Homo sapiens: one gene and its partner. The protein of the gene in region 2 interacts with the protein of the main gene of each other region in a biochemical or structural test. Each region holds a gene or a part of one and is shown on either strand. Other genes may lie near its edges. The genes, in order: UBE2H and POLL.

Region 1 (3,817 bases), on a different chromosome or scaffold from region 2:
CTGCAGTGATAAAAATGTTTTATATGTGCTCACCTAAACCAATAGCCACTAGCCATAAGTGGCTACTGAGCACTCAAAATATGGCCAGTGTGAATAAGGAAATTAATTTTCAGTTTATTTAATTCTAATTAAATTTAAATAACCACACATGGCTAGTAGATCCTGTATTGGACAGTGCAGGTCTAGAGAATGATGGGCTAGAGGGTCCCATGACAGCTACCACGTCCTGTTCTCACACACCAGGTATTGACACAGAGCAGCTCTGCCTTACAACAAAAGCCACAGACTTGGGGTGATTTCATCAGAGTCTATTTCACCTTCATAAGGCTGACTTCAGAACGGTCCTAAAGAGCCACTTTATAGTAAGGTTCTCATGTACCACGAAAGAAATCCTGACACTCCTAATCAAAAAAGCAAAACAAAAATCACCTTCCTATATAACCCCCAAACTATCTGCAGTAAGATTTTCACCAATGTTTTATCTACAATTTTTTTAAAAAGGGAAACAATTATTATGGTACAAAACCATTGAAAACTATTTGTTTTCAATGAAAAAAATGCTTATACTTGAATGCTGGGTAGAGAAAGGCCATAAAATGGTATGTTTTCTAGAATTACAACTATGTACAGTGTGTATGCATAAGACAAACATTTTAAAAAGCTACCTCAAGGCAATAGATGTGTAACTTCTACTTTTCACATTTCAAATGACATTTCTTTTGCCTTTAAAAATCAACATTTTTGGCTCACACCTGTAATCCCAGCACTTTGGTAGGCCAAGGTGGGTGGATCACATAAGGCCAGGAGTTCGAGACCAGCCTGGCCAACATGGCAAAACCCTGTCCCTACTAAAAAATACAAAAAATTAGCTGGGTGTGATGGCGCGTGCCTGTAGTCCCAGCTACTTGGGAGGCTGAGGCAGAATTGCTTGAACCTGGGGAGGTGGAGGTTGCAGTGAGCCAAGATTGCACCACAGTACTCCAGCCTGGGCAAGTGAGTGGAACCCTGTCTCAAATAAATAAATAAAATAAAAATAACATTTTCCTGTAAATATGTCCTTTCTATTTTGGCATATGTTTGAAATATCCAATAAAACATGAAAAGTCTGAAAATGTTTTTATTTTCTTATCTTTATCCTTGGGTGGGTGAGTTATTAAGGCAGTGGTAGAAAATGCCAAAAGGTAAGCAAATTCAGTTTTACAGGCCAGACGCAGTGGCTTACAACTGTAATCCCAACACTTTGGGAGGCTGAGATGGGCAGATCACCTGAGGTCAGGAGTTTGAGACCAGCTTGGCCAACACGGTGAAATCCCGTTTCTACTAAAAATACAAAAATTAGCTGGGTGTGGTGGCAGGTGCCTGTAATCCCAGCTACTTGGGAGGCTGAGGCAGGAGAATTGCTTGAACCCAGGAGGTGGAGTTTGCAGTGAGCCCAGACTGCGCCATTGCACCGCAGCCTGTGCAACAAGAGCAAAACTCTATCTCAAAAAAACAAAAATAAAAACAAAAAACAGTAGTTTTACAATTGAATGTGATCCCATAGCAGGGAAAAGTTAAACAATAGTTACATTAACAGTAATTTTTTTTTTTTTTTTTTTTTGAGACAGAGTCTTGCTGTCAACCAGGCTGGGGTGCAGTAGTGTGATCTCCACTCACTGCAAGCTCCGCCTCCTGGGTTCACGCCATTCTCCTGCCTCAGTCTCCCCAGCAGCTAGGACTACAGGCACACGCCGCCACATCCAGCTAATTTTTTTGTATTTTTAGCAGAGAAGGGGTTTCACCGTGTTAGCCAGGATGGTCTCGATCTCCTGACCTCGTGATCTGCCCGCCTCGGCCTCCCAAAGTGCTGGAATTACAGGAGTGAGCCACTGCGCCCGGCCCATTAACAGTAATATTAACAGTAATGGCAGGTTAATGCTTACATAGTGCTTACTACAAGCAAGGAACTCTTCCATGGTCTGCATATACACTCTTAATTTCACTACAGTCAATGAGGTAGGCACCATTTTACAGATGGAGAAATTGAGGCACACAGAGCTTAAGTATGGATCAGGAACTCAAACCTGAGCTCATCCACTATGCTGCCTCTGTTAATGGATAAAACACACACTGCCGCTGCCGCAAATTTCACGAAGGCACAAGCTCCCCATGTCTCTGGGTCAAAATCGCATACCATCGCTGGCAGGGAAGCTAAATCCATGGATCAGAGATGATCACCCTCCTCCCCAAAGAATCCCTCACAAGTGCAAAGAAGCATGCTAAGCAAAGGACGTTCAGATGTTTCTGTGGCTATTCACAGAGACGGTGTGCTTGTTTTCATGCAGCTCCACCGCAGGAGGTAACCCGCAGACACCTGCACACAGCGAACGGAAGGCTCCTCCTGCCATATTATTATTACAGGTGCTGCTCAAAAGGATTAGCAGCTGGATGCTATTACATAACAACGAAAACCTTTAAAAACAAAGCATAGGTTTTATGTTCTGAAGTAATGTTCAGAAGTGCTTCAGGGCTAGAGAAATATCACAGACAACGTGTTATAAAACTAGGAGTTTAGCGTGTCCCAGAAAGAGATTTTATACCCTTTCCTACTACTTTTAAGTTTCCTCAAGCTACCAATAAAAGGCTTTGCCTATGAATTTGTTCCAAACAAATAAAAGAACCCTTAATTATTGGTTCTTCCTTCCTGTATCTACCGTCTTCCTGCATTAACACATTTTTGATCCATTTTACAGAAGTGCTGAGTCACACCTGTAAAACAGAAGAGCAGAAAAGGAAACACATGAGGCCCAGTTTTGGGTGAAGATGACAACTTCGGGAGGCCAGGATGTGATGGCTCTGCCATCTTAAAGCAATAAGGCCTTCCTGCAAGTGGCTAACACAGTGATTACTCCTAAGGGTGCTTCTGAAAGGAGCATCTCTCAAATGTGCAGATGTGCAGAAAGTCTTCTTTCAAGATAAATACACTGGCAGAGAAGACTAAAACTATAAATCAAGAATAAAATAAAGATACTCATCTGTAGAAAAATAAAGAACACTTTTTCCCTAGATTTTTGTTAATGATAAAACGATAAAAATGTGTCGATAATAATAACGATAAAAATGTGTCAGTTCAAAGATCTTTATCTAAAAACATTAACCTTCAATTTTTTTAAAGGAAGAGAGCCAGATACAGTTGACCTAAACCTGTAGAGTACAGTCAGCCGACCCCATTTCCGCCTGTCTTAACTTTTAAAGGAAGTCCCAAGATTCCTGAGTATATGGTTTATGATGAGCAAACAGCTCTTACTTTTGCCTTAGACTCAATTAGAACCAAAATGTGGTTCATTAGCACTGACTCTTCAGTCTGATCTTACATTAATGTTAAAATTATAACACTCATATCTCAGTTTAGGCATATAATTTATATTCATATTTACTATTTAAAAACAGGCTGGGCACAGTGGCTCATGCCTGTAATCCTAGCACTTTGGGAGGCCGAGGCAGGTGGACTGCCTGAGGTCAGGAGTTTCACACCAGCCTGGCCAACGTGGCAAAACCCTGTCTCTACTAAAAATACAAAAAATTAGCCAGGCGTGGTGGTGGGCACCTGTAATCCCAGCTACTTGGGAGGCTGAGGCAGGAGAATTGCTTGAACCTGGGAGGCAGAGGTTGTAGTGAGCTGAGATTGTACCACTGCACTCCAGCCTGGGCAATGGAGTGAGACTCCCAAATCATAAACAACTTATCATCAAAAGTAGCATCACTTAGTCTAGAGCAGTGGTTCTGGGCTAAGTCTAGGTCCTGCTTGTCCATCACAATTACCTGTGGAGTTTTTCCA
Region 2 (3,755 bases):
CCACAGGTACTTGGACCATCCACAGCCCAGCAAGGCAGAGCAGGATGCTTCTATTCCTCCTGGCACCCATGAGGCCCTGCTTCAGACAGCCCTTTCTCCTCCTCCTCCTCCCACCAGGCCTGTGTCTCCTCCCCAAAAGGCAAAAGAGGCACCAAACACCCAAGCCCAGGTCAGGAGCCTCCCATCCCTCAGAACTCCCTTCCCCTAGGAAGCAGATCACAGAAATGGGGTGGGCCTGGTGGCTGTTCAGAAAGTCCCAGGCCCCTGAGAGAGGAGGGCTCTATTGTGAAGCCATTTAGCTCTTCCCAACACTCATCACTGCTGCATTTATCTAGGCCATATCTAACACATACCACTGGGGATCCTAGGGCTAGGCACTGCGTGGAGCCAAAGGGAACGTGGCCTCACACCCAAGGAGATCCAAGTCTGATGCAGAAGGCCCCGCCTCATTCTTAGGTCTGACTAGAAGACCCTCCCCCCGCACAAAGAAGATGACCCCCACCTTTAAGGATCCCTTCTCTTGGAGAACAAGAATTTATTGTTTTCTTTTCTTCTCTATCCCAAGCCCATCTCTGATGATGAAGCCAGTGATGGGGAAGAAACCCAGGTTAGTGCAGCTGATCTGGAAGCCCTCATCAGTGGCCACTACCCCACCTCCCTTGAGGGAGATTGTGAGCCTAGCCCAGCCCCTGCTGTCCTGGATAAGTGGGTCTGTGCACAGCCCTCAAGCCAGAAGGCGACCAATCACAACCTCCATATCACAGAGAAGCTGGAAGTTCTGGCCAAAGCCTACAGTGTTCAGGGAGACAAGTGGAGGGCCCTGGGCTATGCCAAGGCCATCAATGCCCTCAAGAGCTTCCATAAGCCTGTCACCTCGTACCAGGTACCCAGGGGCTAGAGTGGGAGGAGGGGTCTTTACTGGCCAGTGGTTAGTAACCCCAGTGGGGTTCAGGTACAGTGGTGAAGATTTTATGGGGTCTAGGACTTGCACAAAAGAAAAAAAAGGAAAATTGATGAAAGCAGATTGGCAAAATCTTGATAGTTGTTGAAGCTGGGAGATGTACGATACTTGGGGGTTATATGGATCTCTCTACTTTTGAATTTTTTAACATAATTAAAAGTTTTTTATTTTTAATTTTGTTTATTTATTTATTTATTCATTTATTTAGCAGAGATGGTGTTTTGCCGTGTTACCCAGGCTGGTCTTGAACTCCTGGGCTCAAGCAATCTACCCTCGGCTCAGCCCTGCAAAGTGCTGGGATTACAGCCATGAGCCCTTGTGTCCCGCCTAAAAAGTTGTTTAAAAGAAGTTTGGACTCTGAAGCCTAACAGACCAGGGTTTGAACTCTGGTTCCTGTCATTCACTAACTGTGTGACTCCAGACAAGTTACTTAAACTCTCAAAGCATCAGTTTTCTCATTAGTAAAAAGGGGCTACTATTAAATGAAATGGTCCCTGTAGCACAGGACCTGACATAGAGTAAGCCCTCAGTAAATGTTAGCTCTTGCTGTTGGAATGATGATGATGGTGGTGGTGGTGGTGGTGACTAATATCATCATTATTTTCTACTTCTTACTGCTGGTCTCCATCCTTCTGGGAACCAAAAGACAAATTACCCAGCCCTCATTCTATCCAAAATTCTCATCTTCAACTACACCCAAGCTTTACACAGCCACACAGTTGCCAAGCAGCCAGGCTGGCTTTTATGTCAGCATCTGCTAGAGGAGTCAGCTTCCTTTCCACTGGCTCTACCTCTTCCATCTCCTCACTCTTCTTTCTTGCCTCTGCCTCCTCCTCCTCTAGGAGGCCTGCAGTATCCCTGGGATTGGGAAGCGGATGGCTGAGAAAATCATAGAGATCCTGGAGAGCGGGCATTTGCGGAAGCTGGACCATATCAGTGAGAGCGTGCCTGTCTTGGAGCTCTTCTCCAACATCTGGGGAGCTGGGACCAAGACTGCCCAGATGTGGTACCAACAGGTCACACCCTGGCTCAGCCCCTACTTCAGTTTTGCTGTGTCTCAGAGTTCCTGCCCCAGATGTGTGCTGTGCTCTGCCCCAGATCCCTATGCTGTGCTCTGATGGGAATGCACCCACAGTATAGGGAGACCATTTTTCAAGCGGACCAGGACTCATATAGACCCCTCAGCTCCCAGAACAGCCTTGTTGCTTGGTATCCTTAAGAAGGAGTAGACAGGGACAAGAAGTATGTTTCTCAGTCTCCCCAGACCAGCAAGGGCCTTCCTGAGGAGGCCAGGCCTTGACACTGCGTGTCTAGAGCAGTGGTTCCCAATCCTGGCTCTGCCCACAATCACCAGGGCAGCTTGGTAAGGATGAAGATGACAAGGTCCATCCTCAGACTGATGGAATCATGAACGAGCATCTTAGGATAGTGGCAGGGCTGGATGATGGCATGTTTCCCATGCTCCCTGCCTTTCCCAAGTCCTGCTGAGTACAGACCCAACTGCCCCTAGGTTGGTCCTGCCTCTAGCCTTCCCTAGAGTCTGGGGCGATGGAAGCCTTGTGTGTGTGCTCACTCATGCCTCTTCATTGGTCCTGGATCCTTACAGCTTCCCATCTGGCTGCTTTTTTCCAGGGCTTCCGAAGTCTGGAAGACATCCGCAGCCAGGCCTCCCTGACAACCCAGCAGGCCATCGGCCTGAAGCATTACAGTGACTTCCTGGAACGTATGCCCAGGGAGGAGGCTACAGAGATTGAGCAGACAGTAAGCAGGTGTCCCAGAGCAGTGAGGACAGCCAGGTCCTGCTGTAAGGTCTTGGGTCAAAGCCAAGAACCCCCAACTCCTCAGCTGGGGAGGACAGCAGGCAGAGGAAACTGTGGATCACCAGAGGTTGAGCACAGAGCAAGTTAAGACTGAAGCTCCAGGCCCAGAGGTGGGGGTGGGGAGCTTTGGGAGGAAAGAGCTGTAACACCAGCCCTCTAGATTCTGGTTCTCAGTAGTCAGGCCTATTAGGATTGGATTCAATTCTAGACTGATTGGTGTTAGGATTGGGTTAATGTTAGGGTTAGATTACAGGTGAATTATATCTGTACTGAGGTTAGGGTGGGTCAGGGCAGAGGGTTTTAATATTTTATTTTATCTTTTTTTTTTATTTCACCAACTTCTTTGAGAACCTGATGAAAACTGTGGACTGTTTTCTCCCCAAAATGCACAAATGTGCAAAGGTTTATGTCTTTTTCCAGATGTATGGACCTTCTAAAGCCCACGCAAGGCTGGCTCAGGATTTGGGGTAGAGTTGGTGTAAAAGCACAGTGTCAGTAGGATTTGGTTTGGGGCTGGAAGAAAGCTCCATCAAGATGGAGTTAAGACCAGGCACAGTGGCTTATGCCTTTAATCCCAGCACATTGGGAGAACAGGGTGGACAGATCATCTGAGCTCAGGAGCTCGAGACCAGCCTGGCCAACGTGGTGAAACCCTGTCTCTATAAAACATACAAAAATTTCCAGCCTGGCAAACATGGCGAAACCCCGTCTCTACTAAAAATACAAAAAAGTTAGGCGGGTGCCGTGGCTCATGCCTATAATCCCAGTTTCTTGGGAGGCTGAGGTGGGAGATTTGCTTGAACCTGGGAGGCGGAGGTTGCAGCGAGCCAAGATTGTGCCACTGCACTCTAGCCTGGGCAACAGAGCAAGACTCTGTCTGAAAAAAAAAAAAAGATTGAGTTAAAGTTAGGCTTTAATTAGGCGTAGGATTTTCTTAATGTTGGTTGCTTTTAAGTTAAGATTTGTAGTTGTCC

Evidence for each region.
Region 1: of the proteins of POLL (region 2) and UBE2H, one has a biochemical effect on the other in vitro, tested with the Homo sapiens proteins (one study listed by BioGRID).

What each region holds. Positions count from the first base shown.
Region 1 is NC_000007.14:129,841,419-129,845,235, forward strand, and holds part of UBE2H (ubiquitin-conjugating enzyme E2 H), read right to left. Parts: intron 1-3,817. UniProt on the Homo sapiens protein: Accepts ubiquitin from the E1 complex and catalyzes its covalent attachment to other proteins. E2 ubiquitin conjugating enzyme that transfers ubiquitin to MAEA, a core component of the CTLH E3 ubiquitin-protein ligase complex.
Region 2 is NC_000010.11:101,581,730-101,585,484, reverse strand, and holds part of POLL (DNA polymerase lambda), read left to right. Parts: intron 1-6; coding exon 7-169; intron 170-565; coding exon 566-883; coding exon of another isoform or gene 884-1,049; exon of another isoform or gene 1,050-1,135; intron 1,136-1,803; coding exon 1,804-1,977; intron 1,978-2,593; coding exon 2,594-2,722; intron 2,723-3,755.